Homo sapiens: one gene and its partner. The protein of the gene in region 1 interacts with the protein of each later gene in a biochemical or structural test. Each region holds a gene or a part of one and is shown on either strand. Other genes may lie near its edges.

Region 1 (8,621 bases):
TGGAAAGTCAAATGAATCCCAGTAAAGATAAATAAAAAGAGATCCAAATTTACATATACCAGTGAAATTGCAGTACTCTAAAGACAGAGAGAAGATTCACCAGAGGGGGGAAAAAAGATAAATTACGCAAAGTAATAGTCAGACTAATAGCAGACTCACAAATAGTAACAATGGAAAATAGAACTCTGTGGAAAATTATCCTAAATATTCAGAAGGAAACAACGACCTAAAATTATATGCTAAGCTAAACCTTTATTCAATAAGATGAGTTGAGCTGGGCATAGTGGCTCATACTTATAATCTCAGCACTTTGAGAGGCTGAAGTGGGAGGATCACTTGAGACCAGGAGTTCCAAGACTAGCCTGGGCAACACAGCAAGACCCCATCTCTACAGAAAATTTAAAAATTAGCCAGGAGTGGTGGTGCACACCTGTAGTTCCAGCTACTCGGAAGGCTGAAGTGGGAAGATTCCTTGAGCCTGGGAATTTGAGGTTATAGTGAGCTATGATTATGCCACTGCACCCCAGCCTGGGCAACAGAGGGAGACCCAGTCTCTTAAAAGAGTGAAATAAAGATTTTCAGAACAGGCTGGGCATGGTGGCTCACGCCTATAATCCCAGCACTTTTGTAGGCCAAGGCGGTGGATCACCAGAGGTCAGGATTTTGAGACCAGCCTGGCCAACATGGTGAAACCCCGTCTCTACTAAAAATGTGAAAAATTAGCTGGATGTGGTGGCAGGTGCCTGTAATCCCAGCTACTTGGGAGATGTATATTGTACAACATGATGACCACTGTTAATGACAATTTACTGTTGTTATTATATATAATTGAAATTTGTTAAAAGTAGATTTTAAGTGTTATCATCATAAATGTTAAGTATGTGAGGTTATATATATATATATATATATATATATATATATATAAATTAGCTTGATTTAGCTATTCCACAATATATACATATTTGAAACATCATGTACACCATTAAAAAATTTTATTTTTTTTAAAGGCTGAGGCAGGAGAATCGCTTAAACCCAGGAGGCGGAGTTCACAGTAAGCCAAGATCGCGCCATTGCACTCTAGCCTGGGCAACAAGAGTGAAACTCCGTCTCAAAAAAAAAAAAAAAAGATTTTCAGAACAATAAAAAGCGAGAGCATTTACCTCAACAAAGTCTAACTTTAAAAAATTCTGGCCGGGCATGGTGGTTCATGCCTGTAATCCCAGGCATGGGTGTGGTGGTGCGTGCCTGTAATCCCAGCTACTTGGGAGGCTGAGGCAGGAGAATCGCTTGAACCCGAGAGGCAGAGGTTGCAGCGAGCTGAGACAGTACCATTGCACTCCAGCCTGGGCGACAAGAGCAAAACTCCATCTCAAAAAAAAAAAAAAAAAAATTCTGAGGGATATACTTCAGAAAGAAAGGATCAAAAAAGGAATTTTGGAGATGAACGAAGGAATGATGAGCAAAAAGATTGTTAAGCATGTATGTAAATCTCAATATACATTGACTGTAAATTCTATTTTTTTTAACAGCTGGAAGTTTTACAACTTTTTCTTCTGGTACTCATTTTCATTATATTTTCTCATAGAATTATATCCTGTTATATGCTCAGGCTGGTGTGCAGTGGCGCAATCATGGCTCACTGCACCGTCCACATCCCAGGCTCAAACCATCCTCGCACCTCAGTCTCCAGCTAACTTTTTATTTTTTGTAGAGACAGGGTCTTGCTATGTTGCCCTGGTTGGTCTTGAAATCCTGGGCTCCATCTGTCCTCACGCCTCAGCCTCCCAAAGTGTTGGGATTACAGGTGTGAGCCACCACCCCTAGCCTACTGATCATTCTTATTGGCATCAAAAATATGCACGTAAACTGACATTAATTTTAAAAATTGTTTTCTGTGACCACAGGGCTATTAGTGTTACATTTCTTCTGGATTTAATGATCATTACAATATTATTAGTCCACAATTGATTAAAACAACATGTATTATTTTAAATAATAATTATTAACATAAAAAGTAAAATTTATTGGAAAGACATCTCATTTTTGAAGTTTCAATTTTTTTTTTTTTGAATAGAGACAGGGTCTGTCTGTCTGTCACCCAGGCTGGAGTGCAGTCGTGTGATCATAGCTCACTGCAGCCTCAAACTCCCAGGCTCGCGTGATCCTCCCACCTCAGCCTCCTGAGTAGTTGGAACTATGAGTGCACACCACCACACTCAGCTAATTTATTTTAATTTTTTAAATTTTTGTAGAGATGGGGTCACCATCTTGCCCAGGATGGTCTTGAACTCCTAGGCTCAAGCAATCCTCCTGCCTTGGTCTCTCAAAGTGCTGGGGTTACAGGCATGAGCCACCATGCCTGGCCTCAAATATTTTTTAATTGACACATTGTAACTGCACATATTTACAGGGTACAATTTGATGTCTTGACACATATATGTTGTATAATGAGCAAATCAGTATTAGCATGCACTTATCATTCCTTTGTGGTAAGGACATGTAACAGTCGCTCTTCTAGCTATTTTATAATATACTGTATCTTACTATTAACCGTCATCACCCTACTGTGCAATATTAATACCCTAGAACTTATTCCTCCTAATTGTAATTTTGAGCCCATTGACCAAGCTCTTCTCATCCTCCCTACATTTTATTTTGAAGGGCAAAAAATATGATTATTACTGAACCGTTATATTTATGATAACTCTAGATTTTGTTGGCTTGGTTTCTCCTGTAGGTATACAGAAGATGGGTGTCCACATAAGAAATTCTTTCACACACGTTTTCTCATGCGAATGAGGTTAACACCAGATTGTTCCAAAATGTTGATTTCAACGTCCTCTGGATATCTCTTAATTTTGCATGACCTTGACTTAACTAAGTCTTTAGAAGTAGGCAGCTATCCCATTTTAAGAGCAAGAAGAACTACTTCAAGTTCAGGTAAGCTTTTCTTTTTTGGTCAAAAAGATTTTTCTCGAGAATCTCAAACATAGAGATGGTATAGGTTTCTTTTCTGAAAATGATAGCAGGAAAAGGGAAGACAGTTTTTTAAAAGGCATTCTTTAGAAAGCTCATTGATGGGTTTTTATCTAAGCAAGTATAATGATTTGTATGTATCTCTGACATATCATTCATATGTACCTCTGAATCACAAATGGACTAGGAGGAATAACTGCTGACCCTAAAGTATTTTCTTTTAGCTTTATGCTAGCCACAGGATCTTTTCATCAGTAATTTTGAATCATCACTATCTCAAAAATTAGTGATGGCACAAGGTCTTAAGTCCTTCTGGAATCAAGCAGAGCTTTTATTAAATTATGGTCAATATAGAGTTTTAGTTTTATCTGTATCCTAGACTTACAGATGTCCAGACACAGGTAGCTGGTGCCATCTTATCTCATTACTCTCTAAACGCTCTTTTGCTAAAACTCTGTCTCTTCTCCCATTGCTGATTTTGTTAGACTTAAGAGAATTTAGGGTTCAGAAAAATGTACGTATTGTATTTTATCAACATTATGTGATTTAAAAAAGACTATATTTCATCTACCTTTGGGAAAGAGGGGACTGGTGTGGGGACATACCCATCATTTACATTATAAACAAAAATCCAGGGGAAAAAAGACTTAAGCATTTGGAACATAGAATGCTAATAAATTGCTATTAAAAGGCAGCTTTGAATGGTTGGGGCCAGGTGCGGGGGCTCACACCTGTAATCCCATCACTTTGGGAGGCCAAGGTGGGAGGATCGCTTGAGCCCAGGAGTTGAACTCAAGGGTAGCCTGGGCAACATAGGAAGACCTCATCTCTACAAATAACTTAAAAATTTAGCCAGGTGCAGTGGCTCACGTTTGTAATCCTAGCACTTTGAGAGACTGAGGTGAGCAGATCGCTTGAGCCCAGGAGTTTGTGACCAGCCTGGGCAACATGGTGAAACCCTGTCTCTACGAAAAACACAAAAATTAGCCAGATATGCTAGCATGCATCTGTAGTCCCATCTACTCAGGAAGCTGGGGCAGGAGGATCACCTGAGCCTGGCAGGTTGAGGCAGCAGTGAGCCATGATTGTGCCCCACTGCCCTCCACCCTGGGCAACAGAGAAAGACCCTGTGTCCAAAAAAAAGGAAATGAAAAAAAAGGTTGGAATCTTTCTCCTTGTGCACAGGACCACTTCTGAAAATTCCTTTGGGAAAGTACAGACATCATTGTACTGCAGTGCCTGGCATAACTGTCAAAAGTAGAAATTTAAGTTTTACCAACTTACTTGCAAACAAGGGATTTCATAAATATACGAGTATAATCCTTTGAGATTCAAATTTGCCTTTTAAGTTAAACATGATAAGCAACTCTAACTTAGTGAGAAATAGTGATTTTGAATGTCTAGTTGGCCTATTTCAACTCAAAAACCAACAAGGTTTTCAGTTTTCTAATGGTAATTCTGATACTAAATAACATTACAGGAAATTAGACTAGTAAGAATTCTTAACATAGGTATGGGACCACTAGCAAAATGTGATGATGAAATAGACACTGCTATTTGGAGTAATATATCAGACTCCACTACCTGATACTCATTTTATTTTTTTCAATGTAAACTTTATGTCACATTTCACAGTATTCACATAAACTTGGCACAGTGGTGCATGCCTTTAGGCCCAGCTACTCAGGAGGCTGAGGCTGAGGCAGGAGGATCACTTGAACCCAGGAATTAGGAGTCCAGCCTGGGCAACATAGCAAGATCCTTGTCTCAAAAAAAAAGACTATTCACGTAATTTCAAGAATGATAATGGAAGTTTTTGGTATACTTTAAAGAAGAATCTCTTCATGTTTCTGGTAATGGGCCTGTTGTTTGGACCCTATTTTAACATAAAACAATAGGCTTAAGAGCTTAGTTTTCATTTTCATGGAATTTTTGGGTTCCATTTTAGTACAGAAATCATGAGGATCCAAAGACGCTCCTATGATTATTTGGTTTTTCATTTTTATTTCACATAGTCAAGTCTTTGATATAAAAGATTCAGAAAGGGACTAGATCTTAGAACACTTCAAAGAGCTGTCTTGCCTTCCTCAGTCTTATAGGCCAGTGATATATGAGCATTTTTTCAAAATTTTAAAACTATGGTTCGAGTAGATAATTAAAAAGTTAAGAGCCACTACCAGAGTTATGCTAGGTTTATTGTCAGAATTTTTTATATTTTTAAGATTTGACCACTTCATCAAGTTCATCTGGTCCTAGAGTTTCTGGCTCACCTTGTCATCATAGTGATTCTAATTCTTCTGAGAAACACATGTCACGAGCCTCTCAAAGAGAAGGTAGGTTAAAAGTTGGATTTTATAATCTTGTAACAACAGATTATGCCAATCTGATTAATTATTGATTGATTAAAACCAGTTTTATGGTTTTAATCCATAAAAATAAAAGCAATGGAGATGAGGTGATTTATCCCTCAGTCATCATCTTCAAAAAGCTAACCGAGAGTCCCTGGGGTTGAATATCTTGAGTTAAATCTTAATAGAACTTGAGCTTTGGTTTTATTAGCTGGACTTAGTTTGGTCTAGTTTGGAGAGGAAGTAGTTCAGAAATATAGATTTCAATCAAGATTGTTGTGAAAATTAAGTGAGATTATGCACGTGAAAGCTCTGTATAAATATAAGTCATGAATTTTCAGGTAATTGTGAAAGTCACCTGGTTACCCTCAGACTTTTTGCTCTGCCATTTCCTTGTCTGTGCAATGCCTGACAGCTTCCAAGGGTTTGTAGGATAAAGTGAGCTACCATCTGGCTCCTCTCTGTATTTCCCAGTTTTTTCCTAGCCATTCTGGCAGAACTAGTTGCTCTGCCCTATACCTTCCACCACACCCCCCCAGTTGAAATGGTTTCTGCCTATACAAATTCCACATACTGTTCCTCTTCATACTAACTGACGTCTAAGCTCTTATACCATTCATTGTTTATTCTTCTCTTTGTGAACTGAGTATTAAGAGCCAGAGATGGCTTGCTTTTTTTTTTGTCATTTTGGGTCACTTTTGGAGATAGACATTTCTCTACCTTGTTATTTTGGGCAGAGACTAAATCTTAGACTTCTAATTTGTGTTTTCACTGGGTGGCTTTGCCTAGTAGATGCTGGTTATCTTGCATGGCTACTTATGTCAGTAGAATGGTTTAAGAGCTCTTTCTAACCTATATGGCCTATCCACTTGCCTCTGGATATTGAAGTCTGTGATATTTCACTTTAAGGTTAAAGGCTCCTCCTCTTAAATTTAAAGATTTATGCCCAGAAGTATAACATTTTTCCTTTGATTTGTAACACAAACATCTTTTGCAGATTCTTCCTGTTCTCCTTCCACTTGTGCTATGGGAAACAAGTCAAGGCTTCTAATAATCATTGAGAAAAATCTTTATTGATTGACTACACCATCCACAAGAAAAAGAAACTTAATTTAAGAAGAATAGTTAACATGCTTGCTTGTTATTGACCAGTGGTAAACACACAAACACAAATATACAGCAGTTCTATGCCACAGAGAGTTAAGAATGAGGGAAGAGATGATATATGAGGAGGCTGGGAAGAAGAGGAAAATGAGAGGGTGAAAAGAGAGGGAAAACATGGGAGAAGGTGGGGCTTATAGGTGAAGTTGCTCTAAATGTTGGAAATCCTGGATCTTCAGATGTCAGAGTATGTTAACACTATCCTTTGGCAGATATAATAGCTGTATAGAGCAGAGGCTTTCAAATGCATTTCAGCATTAGAACTCTATTTTTGACATGAAATCTGCTGTGGATTCTTAGAGATGTAGCACAAATAAAATCAAAGTAGCTCTGGTTCAAGAAAAATTAGGGAGGCTCTTGACCCTCCAGCCTTCCCCACTCCATCTACACCTCAGCCCACACGTGGTTCCCCACTTTTGCCATCTCCTGAGGAACCCCAAAGGAGCACAGTTAGCAAACCACCTACTTAGAATGCATTTCTTGTCTGGTTTTGTTATAGGTTTTCCAAATTAATTCTTAAAATAAGAGTATATTTTTCTCTAAAATTGTTAAAGTTCAATCATATGTGAAATAGTTATTTCAGTATAGTTTTGTTATAGCAGTGTAATTTAGAGCTTCACAGGTTTCTGTTAATGATGTAGTAATCTGAAGGGAATCTTTAGAAAGAAGGTAACACATCTGCTTGACAAGCAATTCACAAAGGATCTGACAGAGGGAGCTCAATACCTTCAAAATAACTCCTTCCACAGTCAGAGAAGTGTTGAAATATTTCTCTTGCTATTAAATTTCTAAGTTGCTTCCTTACAGTGTCTATGAAAGTGGTTTTTCACGCACCTGAAGGATATAACATATTCCTATTATTAACAGTGCCTTACTCCAGCAGTCATTTTCATTGGGAGTTAGGTAGAAGGAAATGATGAGGCATAGTAGAGTCTATGATTGGCAATGTCTCCCATCCCTTGTTTTGACATGCCTTTATGTGAGGTGTCCTTTCTTACCTCCAACATTTTATTTTTTGTTTATAGTGTTGTTATTGCAGGTGCTTAAGTCCTGATCTTTTTATTTGCTTAAAAGGCAATCCTCATGGCTTCCAAGTATTTCCTTCTCTGGACCAGAAAGCACCAGGACCAATGAGAGGAGAATTGTTACCTTTTACCTTTCTAGAGTCCTTTCATGTCACATAACTTTGGTTCTTACTTAAATAAAGAGCTTTCTGAGATGTAAGATCCAAATAAAAGAACCCCTAGTCAGCTTCTATGCCTTAGCCTTAGGTCAGTGACAATTACTGCTGTGGGAACTTGGATCTTTTGTTCTATTTATACCCTTTCCCCACACCTTCACCCCGCCAAAACTCACACACCATACATTGGGGAGTACCACGCTCTTTAACATATGGTAGCATAAGGGGCAGACTAAGGAATGACGGCATGGGAGGTGGCTGCCAGAAATAAAAAGCTTTGATGAACTGCCTTAGTTTTTTGATAATACAAATCCCACATCCTCATTTTCTTATATCTCAGGAGTTTCACCACGAAATAGTCTTGAAGTCGTAACCCCTGAAGTTCTTGGTGAGAGTGACCACGGAAACTGCATCACGTCCTTACAGCTGCACCCAAAAGGCTGGGCCACTCTTCTTCGGTGCTCAAGCAACAGTGATGATGAGGAGGTACAGGCAGCAGCACTCCACCTTCAACAGGGCTCATTGGACAAATTGCCATTGCCGTGTGTGCAGAGCTTAGGCCGATCGCTGACTGCAGTCTCTGCCTTCAAGGGCATACTGCTAGAGATCCTGCTTCTCGACTCTCCTGTTTCTGTCCTCTCTTGCTTCATATGGTATCATTATCCCTTCCAAACTCTTCTTATTCCTCTCCTGCTGGGGTTGAGCAAGGTGGGAGGTACTTTAAAGGCCAGCATCAGCTCAGTTTTTGCCCAGCTTCTTAAATCTTGCCTCTTTCATCTCACCCTAAACAAACAAACAAACAAACAAACAAAAACCCCTTGTATAATAAACATAGGTCTGAAATGTTTCAGCTAAGCTGGCTAAATGTGAGATTTTACTAAGCCAATTGAGTATCATAATTTTCTTTTTTTAAAAACCAGGGGAAACTCTGGGAAAGGAAGGGACTATACTGATGA
Region 2 (8,892 bases), on another chromosome or scaffold:
CCAACTTAGTCCATTTGTGCTACTGCAACAAAATACCTATAATTTATAAAGAACAGAAATTTGTATTTCTCACAGTCTGTTGGCTGGGAAGCCCAAGATCAAGGTGCTCGCAGGTTCCACATCAGGCGGAGGCCCCTTCCTCACAGATGACACCATCTAGGTGTCCTCCTGTGGCAGAACAACAGAACAGCAAAATGGGCCTAAGCTAGTTGCTTCCAGACCTTTTTATAAAAGGCAACTAATTCATTCATGAAGACAGAGCGCTCATGCCTTAAATCACTTCCCCAAAAGCCCAACCTCTTAATACCACCATAATGGGGACGAACACATGAATTTGGGGTGGTGGGACACATATATTCAAACTATAGCATGCACTTTTCAACATCTTAAAACAGATTCCCGTGGTCTCAAGAGGCCAGACTAGACAAAAATTAGGGCATCTCTTTGGTTACTCTCTAAAACGTTAAACTCTATACTGAGAGTGAGTGGAATACAAAAGTATGACATTTAATTAGACATTCTGCTGGCTGACACAAAACTTGCACTTCCTTTTTCATTAGCCAATAGGTACAGCTATAACTGTAGACAGAAATTATAATTAGAAATAATGAGAGCAATTTCTTGGATTACTCCACTTTTAAATTATATTTTATTCAGACTTATCCTTTGAAATTACTCATGATTAGCCTATCCTCTTCATGTGATAATTTAGGAAACCTCTCTATTGCTGTGGCATCTTTATGGAAAAAAAAAATTGTGTACATGCATACATGCAAGAAAGTTTCCTACAAACATCACAATTTAAAAACCACTCTATCCAAAAAGGCATTGTAAAAGTATAATTTTGCATTTTATTCATTCATTCCATCAGCTGGGAATTGCTCTATTGTACAAATACAGTTTTGTACAAAAAAATCACAAAATGTTACAAAATAAAAAAAGTACAAACTGCATTACTTAATAAATATGACTAAAAGTAGTTAAAGTGGCAATGAGATTGATTTTAAGTTGGAAACATTGTTTGACCCAGCAAACCATACAAGCTCTGTTTACAGACATTTCTACATCAATACAGGGCAATCCTATTTTGCCTTTTGAAAGAATGTAAAGAAATATTAAGACAGTGTTCTCCTGCTATAACTGCCAAGGTTGGCTCCAGACATTTATGCCATTAGTTTATAAATCTCTTAGCTGGATTCAAGAAGTTATATAAAGCAGGAGGCTTATCTTGTCACAGAGTTTTATACCATGTTAACATTCTCTTACAACAACGTGACAAATGTAAATAAAAACAACTGAGAGCACCAGACAATCTACTCTACACATCAACCAGGGTACAGAATAATCATTCTGCCATCAGCAAATATCAGACTTTCATTCAAGTAAGACCTGCTACTATCCCTTAAAAGAGGAAAAACAAAACAAAAACCAAAAAAAAAACACAAAAAAACACCTTCCCACAACCTTCCATTAAGTAATTTTCTTTAAAAGATTCGCCATTTCTAGAAAAATAATGACTTCCAAAACAACAGCTCTGTTTCATCAAAATGGAATGGGCCAAACATCTGGTAACAAGAATGCATCAATATCCATTTGAAATAATTATCTAAGAATTGTGAAATTCAAATTTCAACAACATAAAATAACTACCAAATCACAAACTCTGTTCAAAATAATACATTTCATATAAAGCACTTCTCTGGATTTACGCCTGAAAGCTGTTTGTCAAAATGGAACACGTCATAGATGAAGGTACACCAGTTTTTAAAAATGTTGTGCAAAAATACATTTTTATAGAAAATAGACTACCAGGAATGAACAAATTTACACTGTGAGAAATCAGCTTGCAAATTAAGTAATGCTCACTTTATACAGCAAATTATAAATAGCAGTAAAATCACCCAAAGCTATCATGAAACATCATTTAGGTGCCCAGCAACCTCCAGCTCTGAGAAAACATTCAAAAAGATGATTAAGGCATTACACCTACAGTAAAATCTACTAGCAAGTTTGAAAGTGCTATTACCCTGATTAAAGTTCATGTGATTCTCCAAACACAAGTTATATATGCAATTATTCCCAGGGTGTAAGGTTTTGAGACATTTCAAGAGCATGCATTTTGTTCAATATACATTTTAGACAAGGATATGGCCATAGATTTGGCAAGTTCTTCGTCGCGTTTCCTTTGCACTTGAGTTTGTTTGCACCAGTTGTCGTACTCTGGGTTAGGATAGGAGTGATCAAATACAGCATCATAGTGTCCGTTACTGAGCCAACTGAGCCAAATACTAGGCCTCAGGGAATCCTCTGGGCCCAAATAATGAATCATGGTAGACACCGTGGGACTCTCCAGCCTCCCTCCAGTAGTTAAATGGATATTCACATTCAGCATCTGCCCCATGGCCAGCAACTCCGGGTACCCGGCCCATGCCCCGTCTTGGGCAGCAGCGATGATAAACTCCCCCACGTCGCCCTCAATCAGGGGGCTGAAGTGGTCGAGATGGTCGGCGATGTAGTGCACCGTCTGCTCCCTCAACTCCCGGTGCAGGCTCTGGTCCCCATACACCGTCTTGCTGACAGCTCGGTAGAGGCAGTTGCCGTCTGGAATGATGTGGAATCGGTACTTATTCCTCTGCCGCAGATACTTGTCCTGCTTCTCCACCTCGGCCAGGTATAGGGCCAGCTTCTCGTCTCTGGGATCCGACCTGGAGACGATCACCGGCTCCGCCGCACTACTCGGGGCGGCCTCGATGCTCCCGGCGGGGGGTGCCTCGGCCTCTGGGTCGGGCCTCCGCGCCGCGTCCCCACCGGGCGCGTCGCAGCGATCGCCGCCCCTCTCCCAGCCCCTGGGGCCCCTCTCCGCCAAGTGCTCTTCGCCCCACGGACCGGGGCCGGGATCGGGGCTCCCCGGGGTCGCCGCGGGGCCTCGGTGCTTGGCGGCGGCCAGGGCCTGGCGGTGCTCGCTCAGTCGGAAGTTCCGATCGGGCCCCTCCCGTGTCGCGTCCAAGCCCGCGGGCTCGGGGCAGTCGGGCCGCAGCAGCTCCTCCAGGAGCCAGGCCGAGGAGCCCCGCCGCGGCGGGACCGGGGCTGCGGGCGCCGGGGCGAGCAGGAGGCAGCGGCCGCGCGGGGCAGCGGCGGAGCCCGCGGCGCCGGGAACGGGATCGGGCCCGTGCAGCAGGAGCCTGTCGGCGCCCAGGGCCCGCACGGTGATCTGTGCGGTGGACGTGTAGTGCGGCGGCAGCGGCGGCTTGCAGGACGCGCCGGGCGGGCCGGCGGCGGCGGAGGCGGGCGCGGCGGCCCCGGACACCACCTCGAAGCAGGAGGAGAAGGCGGGCATCTTGGCGGCGGGGACAGCGGCGGCTTCCCGGTGCTCGGCGGCCGCGGCGGGCTGGCACTCACCGGTCTCGGGCTCGGGCGCGGCGCCGGCGGCTCCCGGGGGCTGCAGCGAGACCTTGAAGGGGGTAGCGGCGGCGGGTGGCGCGGGGGCGGCGGCCGTGGGACCCGGGGCCCCGGCGGGGTAGTGGGTGCAGACGCTGCTGTAGAGCTGCATGTCCCTGCCCGCCGCTCGGCCCCTTATAGGCGCGGCGAGCCCCGGAGCGGGGGACACACCCTCCGGGCCCGGGGGAGGGGGCCGGCGGAGCGCGGTGACCCAACGGCCCCAGAATAGAGATGAGCGAAAGGCAGCCGGCCGCCGCGAGTCAGCAGCCGCGAATAGCGCCCGGGTCCCGGCCAAATTCCTGCTGCGCCACAGCGCAGGGGGGCGGGGACGGGACGCGAGCTCGACCCCTGCCGGTGCGCTCGGCCCGCAGACCCGGGGCGCCGCGCCCGCTGCAGCTGCTTCGGCCCGCGGCGGCCGCTGGGGACTCACGGAGGAAGCCGCCCGCCCCGTTGGAGCGCGTCCCGCCGGCGAGGAGGAGCGCGGTGCGCGCGGAGGCCCGGGAGGCGGGGCCGCGGTTGTTTACCTCAGGCCTCGCGGCCGCGTCACGTGGACTCACTGGAATGCGCGGCTCTTTGCGGCGCCCGATTCAGTCGCGCCTGCTCGCCCCGCCCACTCCGGCCCGCGCCCCGCCCCCTACCGCGCTCCGCCGACGTCACGGGCGTGGCCCTCGGCGCGCGAGCGCGCGCGGGCGGGGCGAGGCCGGGGGCGCGGAGGCCTGAGCAGTCCTGGGATCCTGGCTGGGCCTCCCGCCCACGTGACTCCCACGGACCGCTTCCCCCACCTGGGCACTGGGCACTGGTTTCTGCGCTGCGCCACTCTCCTCAGCGGCTGCAGTGGATGCTGCGGGATGGGAGCTGCTTGGGGCGAGTTAGCATGCTCGGAAAGCTTGCGTGGCAGGAAAGCTTCCGGCATGGGTGTGGAGAACGGAATGCTGCCTTAAAGTCTGTTTGGCCTCTGCTGGTCATGGGCTACCATCCCTGCTTGCATTCACTACTGCCTCTTTTCTTTTATCTTTTTAGAGATGGGGGTCTTACCTGTCTCCGAAGCTAGAGTGTAGTGGCGCAGTCCATAGCTCACTGCAGCCTTGACTTCCCGGGCTCAAGCGATCCTCCCGCCTCAACCTCCAGAGTAACTGGAAACCACAGGTGTGCACCACCGCACCCGGCTAATTTTCTTTCTTTCTTTCTTTCTTTTTTTTTAAGGCGAGGGTCTCACCACAGTTGCCCAGTCTGGTGTCGAACTACTGGCCTCAAGCTGTTTCCCGCCTCGACCTCCTAAAGTGTTGGGATTATGGGTCCTAGCCACCACTCGTGGAACCGCCGCGTCTTTTCCTTTTTTTTTTTTTCTTTTTCTTTTTGAGGCAAGGTCTTGCTCTGCCTTCCAGGCTGAGTGCAGTGGCGCCATCATGTCCCACTGCGACCTCGACCTCCAGGGCCCAAGTGATCCCCCTTCCTCAGCCTTGCCTTGGGCAGGGATTACAGGTGCCCAGCTAGTTTTACCACTGTGTCTTTTCTATGCATTTCCTTGGACTCACCGGTAAGGGTGAGTCCGCTAGTGGATTCTCTTGCCTTGCTAAGACAAAACCAACTTTGCACCTCTGACCTATGCCATTTGGCAAATATCTGGCTTGGGGGAAAGCAAGGAAGCCTTTTAGGCTTTTATAAACAAGCTTTCTCAGAATACCAAATGCAGTATCACTTAGGGCCCTTTGAGAATAGGTGTGAATGCTAGCCAGAGGTCAAAAGCGGTGGAGAAAGTCGTGACCTGCATTCCGGGGCAAGATAGACTATAGAAAATACTTCTACCGAGTCTTTTTGTAATACCCGCCTTTGTAAGGGAAAGCCAGAGGTAGTGGGAGACTTTTGCTATATTCTGAGCTGTGATCAAATGCTAAATTAACAGGGCCTAAACATTCGAATTGAACCCAGAGGTTGTCCTAACATTTTAGAGATAGGGAGACTGAACCTGTAGGTGATGTAGGCTGTACTCCGGTCCCCACCTTTCCGGTGGAATGTGAATTCCAGGAATTGAGAGACTTGGGTCTTGCTCTTATATTTCCATCCCCTAACACCGTGCTTGGCACATAATTGGACCTAATTAATATTTACTAAGTGAATGAGTAGATGGAAAGCGAGTTTCCAAGGTTTGTCAGACAGTGGTGAAGCCAAGATTACTATCCAGGTCCCTTGACCCTAGCCAGGGCTTTTAATTATCTTTGGGCAGTATGACTGGCAGGGTCCCAGCTCAGGTCACTCCAGCCGCTTATGTAAATTAACTCAGAAGAAGGTAAATGACTGTCTAACTTTTCAAATTCTGGTAACTACCCCATTGGGAGCTTGAAGCTCTCATGGCTAATTAGAAAAAGGAAATTACCATCCTTGGATTTCATCACTGATTTGTTGAGCATCTGTTGCTCTGTGCATGAAGCACTTCACGCTTAACTCTTTCATTAGCTGGTGTTCTGAAACAGAAGACAAGACTGTTAACAAGGCCGTCACCAAATAATATTTACCATACCCACCACGTGCCTGGCAGGACTAGCATAACTGGAGCCTGAAGGGAGATAAGGAAAATATTAGAATTTAAACCCTAAAGCAAGAGTAGATATTAACAGGTTGGGGTAAATGCAGAAAACAGCAACAACAACAACAAAACACTAGGTCCACAGAAGACACACTACCTCTGATGTACCAAGTTAGCAGCAGACAAAAACAAAGAGGTGAAGATTTGAAACATTAACATATGAATGCATTTTTAAAAATCTTTTTAGTTTGTCTGGGGGCAGTGGACTATGCAAGACTGTGTATTGGCAGTAGGAATCCTTGTCCACTCTGTATCTCAATGTGGAAAGGCTTCCTGGAGGAGGTGGTACTTCAGGAAACCTTCAAAGCAGAAATGATAGCAGCTTTGGAACTGGATGTTGTTTTTGGCCCTTGGAAGCTAAGAGAAGACAAGGCCTTGCAGGTGACAGCAAAGAGATTAGGGAGGCAAATCTGATTTCTCGTGAGTTCAAATAATTATCTATAATGTAATTATGTAATTAAAATTAATATGCATGAAAATTGCTACATGATCAGAACGATTGAAGAGTATAAGTTTTCAGGAAGTGAGTTGTTTTTATTCTGATGGTTTCCGTGACTGTTTTCCCTTCCTCAACTGTAAGCTCCTCAGAAGGATCCCAAAACTTAGCATAGAATAACTTGTAACGTTTTTGCTATATACTGTATATTAAAACATGGGAAGACTATAAATGTGATTTTTTAAAAAAAACTGTGCAAAGAAGCTGAATCCTGTGTCTTTAGATAAACATTAAATACATCCAATTAAGCTAGAAAAAACAATTCCTAGGCTAGGAGCCATGGCTCATGCATATAATCCCAGTACTTTGGGAAGCTGAGGCAGGAGGATCACTTGACCCCTGGAGTTTAAGAGCAGCCGAGGCAACATAGCAAGACCCTGTCTCTACAAAAAATAAAAAATAAAAGAATTAGCCTGGCATGGTGGCACATGCCTGTAGTCCCAGCTTCCTGGAAGGCTGAGGGGGAATAATTGCTTGAGCTCAAGAGTTTGAGGTTGCAGAGAGCCATGACCACACAATTGCACTTTAGCCTGGGTGACAGAATGAGGCCCTGTATCAAGGGAAAAAAAAGAAAAGACAGACAGACAGTAGCAAGTGTTGGAGAAAATGTGAAGTTAAAATCTTCATACGTTGCCTGTGAGATTGTAAAATGACGCAGATACTTTTTAAACAGCTTAGCAGTTCCTCAAAATGTTACACATAGAGTTAACCATATGATCCAGTAATTCCACTTCTAGGTATATAACCAAGAAAAATAAGAACATATCTCCATACAAAAACTTGTATATCAATATTCATAGTAGTAGTATTCATAATATCCAAAGAGTAAAAACTACCCACATATCCATCAAATGATGAATGGATAAACCAAGTGTGATACATTCAGACAATGGAATATTATTCAGCCATGAACAAAATGAAGACACATGCTACAATATGGATGAATCTTCAAAACAGGCTAAGTGAAGAAAGCCAGATGCAAAAGGTCACATACTGTATAATTCCAGTTATATGAAATGTCTAGAATAGAGAATAGGCTGAGGTGAGGAGGGAATGTGGAGTGACTGCCAAAGGGCGTGGGTTTCTTTTGGAGTGATCAAAATGGTTTGAAAATAGCTTATGGCTGTTCGAGGGGCTCATGCTTATAATCCCAGCACTTTGGAAGGCCAGGGTGGGTAGATCACTTGAGTGCAGTAGTTTGAGACCAGCCTGGGGAACATGGCAAAACCCCATCCCTACAAAAAATACAAAAGTTAGCCAGGCATTGTGGCACACACCTGTAATCCCAGATGCTTGGGAGGCTGAGTTGGGAGGATCCACTGATGCTGGGAGTTTGAGGCTGCAGTGAGCTGTGATTGTGCCACTGCACTCCAGCCTGGGTGACAGAGGAGACCCTATCTCAACAAAAAAAGAGAGAAAGAAAGAAAAAAGAAAATGGGTTATGGCAGGGCAAGGTGGTTTATGCTTGTAATCCCAGCACTTTGGGAGGCTGAGGCAGGAGAATCACTTGAGCCCAGGAGTTTGAGACCAGCCTGGGCAACATTCAAGACTCCATCTCTACCAGTAATAATAATAATAATAATAATAATCAGCTGAGTGTGGTAGTGTGCACTTGTAGTCCCAACTATTCAAGAGGCTGAGGCTGGAGGACCACTTGAGCCCAGGACTTTGAGACTTTGAGATCGCAGTCAGCTATGATCCTGCCACTGCCTTCCAGCCCAGGTGACAGAGCAACCCCTTGTCTCCAAAACAAACAAACAAACAAACAAACAAAAAGTTGCTAGTTGCACAACTCTGTGAATATACTAAAAACTACTGAATTATACATGTGAAGGATGAATGAATTCTATGGTATGTAAATCATATCTAAATAAAAGCTGTTTTTAAAAACCTTACCATGAGCCAGGTACTATGCTCATTGCTTGAGATAAAAAGATAATTATATTTTAACCATAAATGTCTCAGCAGCAACAATACTTATTTTGTGACATTATTGCATATATCATGGACAACATTTTATATATCTTAAAGATTTTTTCTGACAAATTCACAGTACTCTATATGATAGCTTAAATGTAATTGTTTAAATGATATAAGTGAGCTGAAGCTTACTGAAGCCAAATCATTCATGCCCAGATAAAACGGATATTTAGGGCACTAGACTAGTAGAAATGCTATTTGAATTTATAATTTTTTTATAAACTTTTTGTGTAATCTTCATGATATAAAAAATACTTTTACATTTTGTAAAGTAAACATTTGTTGAGCATTCCATGAAGCATATGGGAATTGTACACAGATATGTCATATTTTTAGTTTCGTTGGTTCTATGTGTGGTTCTCTGAGATTCTGAAAAGTGCGCAGAATATTTTCT

What was found.
Region 2: the proteins of DCAF10 (region 1) and OTUD1 form a complex in vitro, tested with the Homo sapiens proteins (one study listed by BioGRID).

Annotation. Positions count from the first base shown.
Region 1 is NC_000009.12:37,852,043-37,860,663, forward strand, and holds part of DCAF10 (DDB1- and CUL4-associated factor 10), read left to right. Parts: intron 1-2,737; coding exon 2,738-2,940; intron 2,941-5,198; coding exon 5,199-5,309; intron 5,310-8,005; coding exon 8,006-8,151; intron 8,152-8,585; coding exon of another isoform or gene 8,586-8,618; exon of another isoform or gene 8,619-8,621. UniProt on the Homo sapiens protein: May function as a substrate receptor for CUL4-DDB1 E3 ubiquitin-protein ligase complex.
Region 2 is NC_000010.11:23,434,116-23,443,007, reverse strand, and holds OTUD1 (OTU domain-containing protein 1), read right to left. Parts: upstream 3,934-8,892; 5' UTR 3,551-3,933; coding exon 2,105-3,550; 3' UTR 631-2,104; downstream 1-630. UniProt on the Homo sapiens protein: Deubiquitinating enzyme that specifically hydrolyzes 'Lys-63'-linked polyubiquitin to monoubiquitin.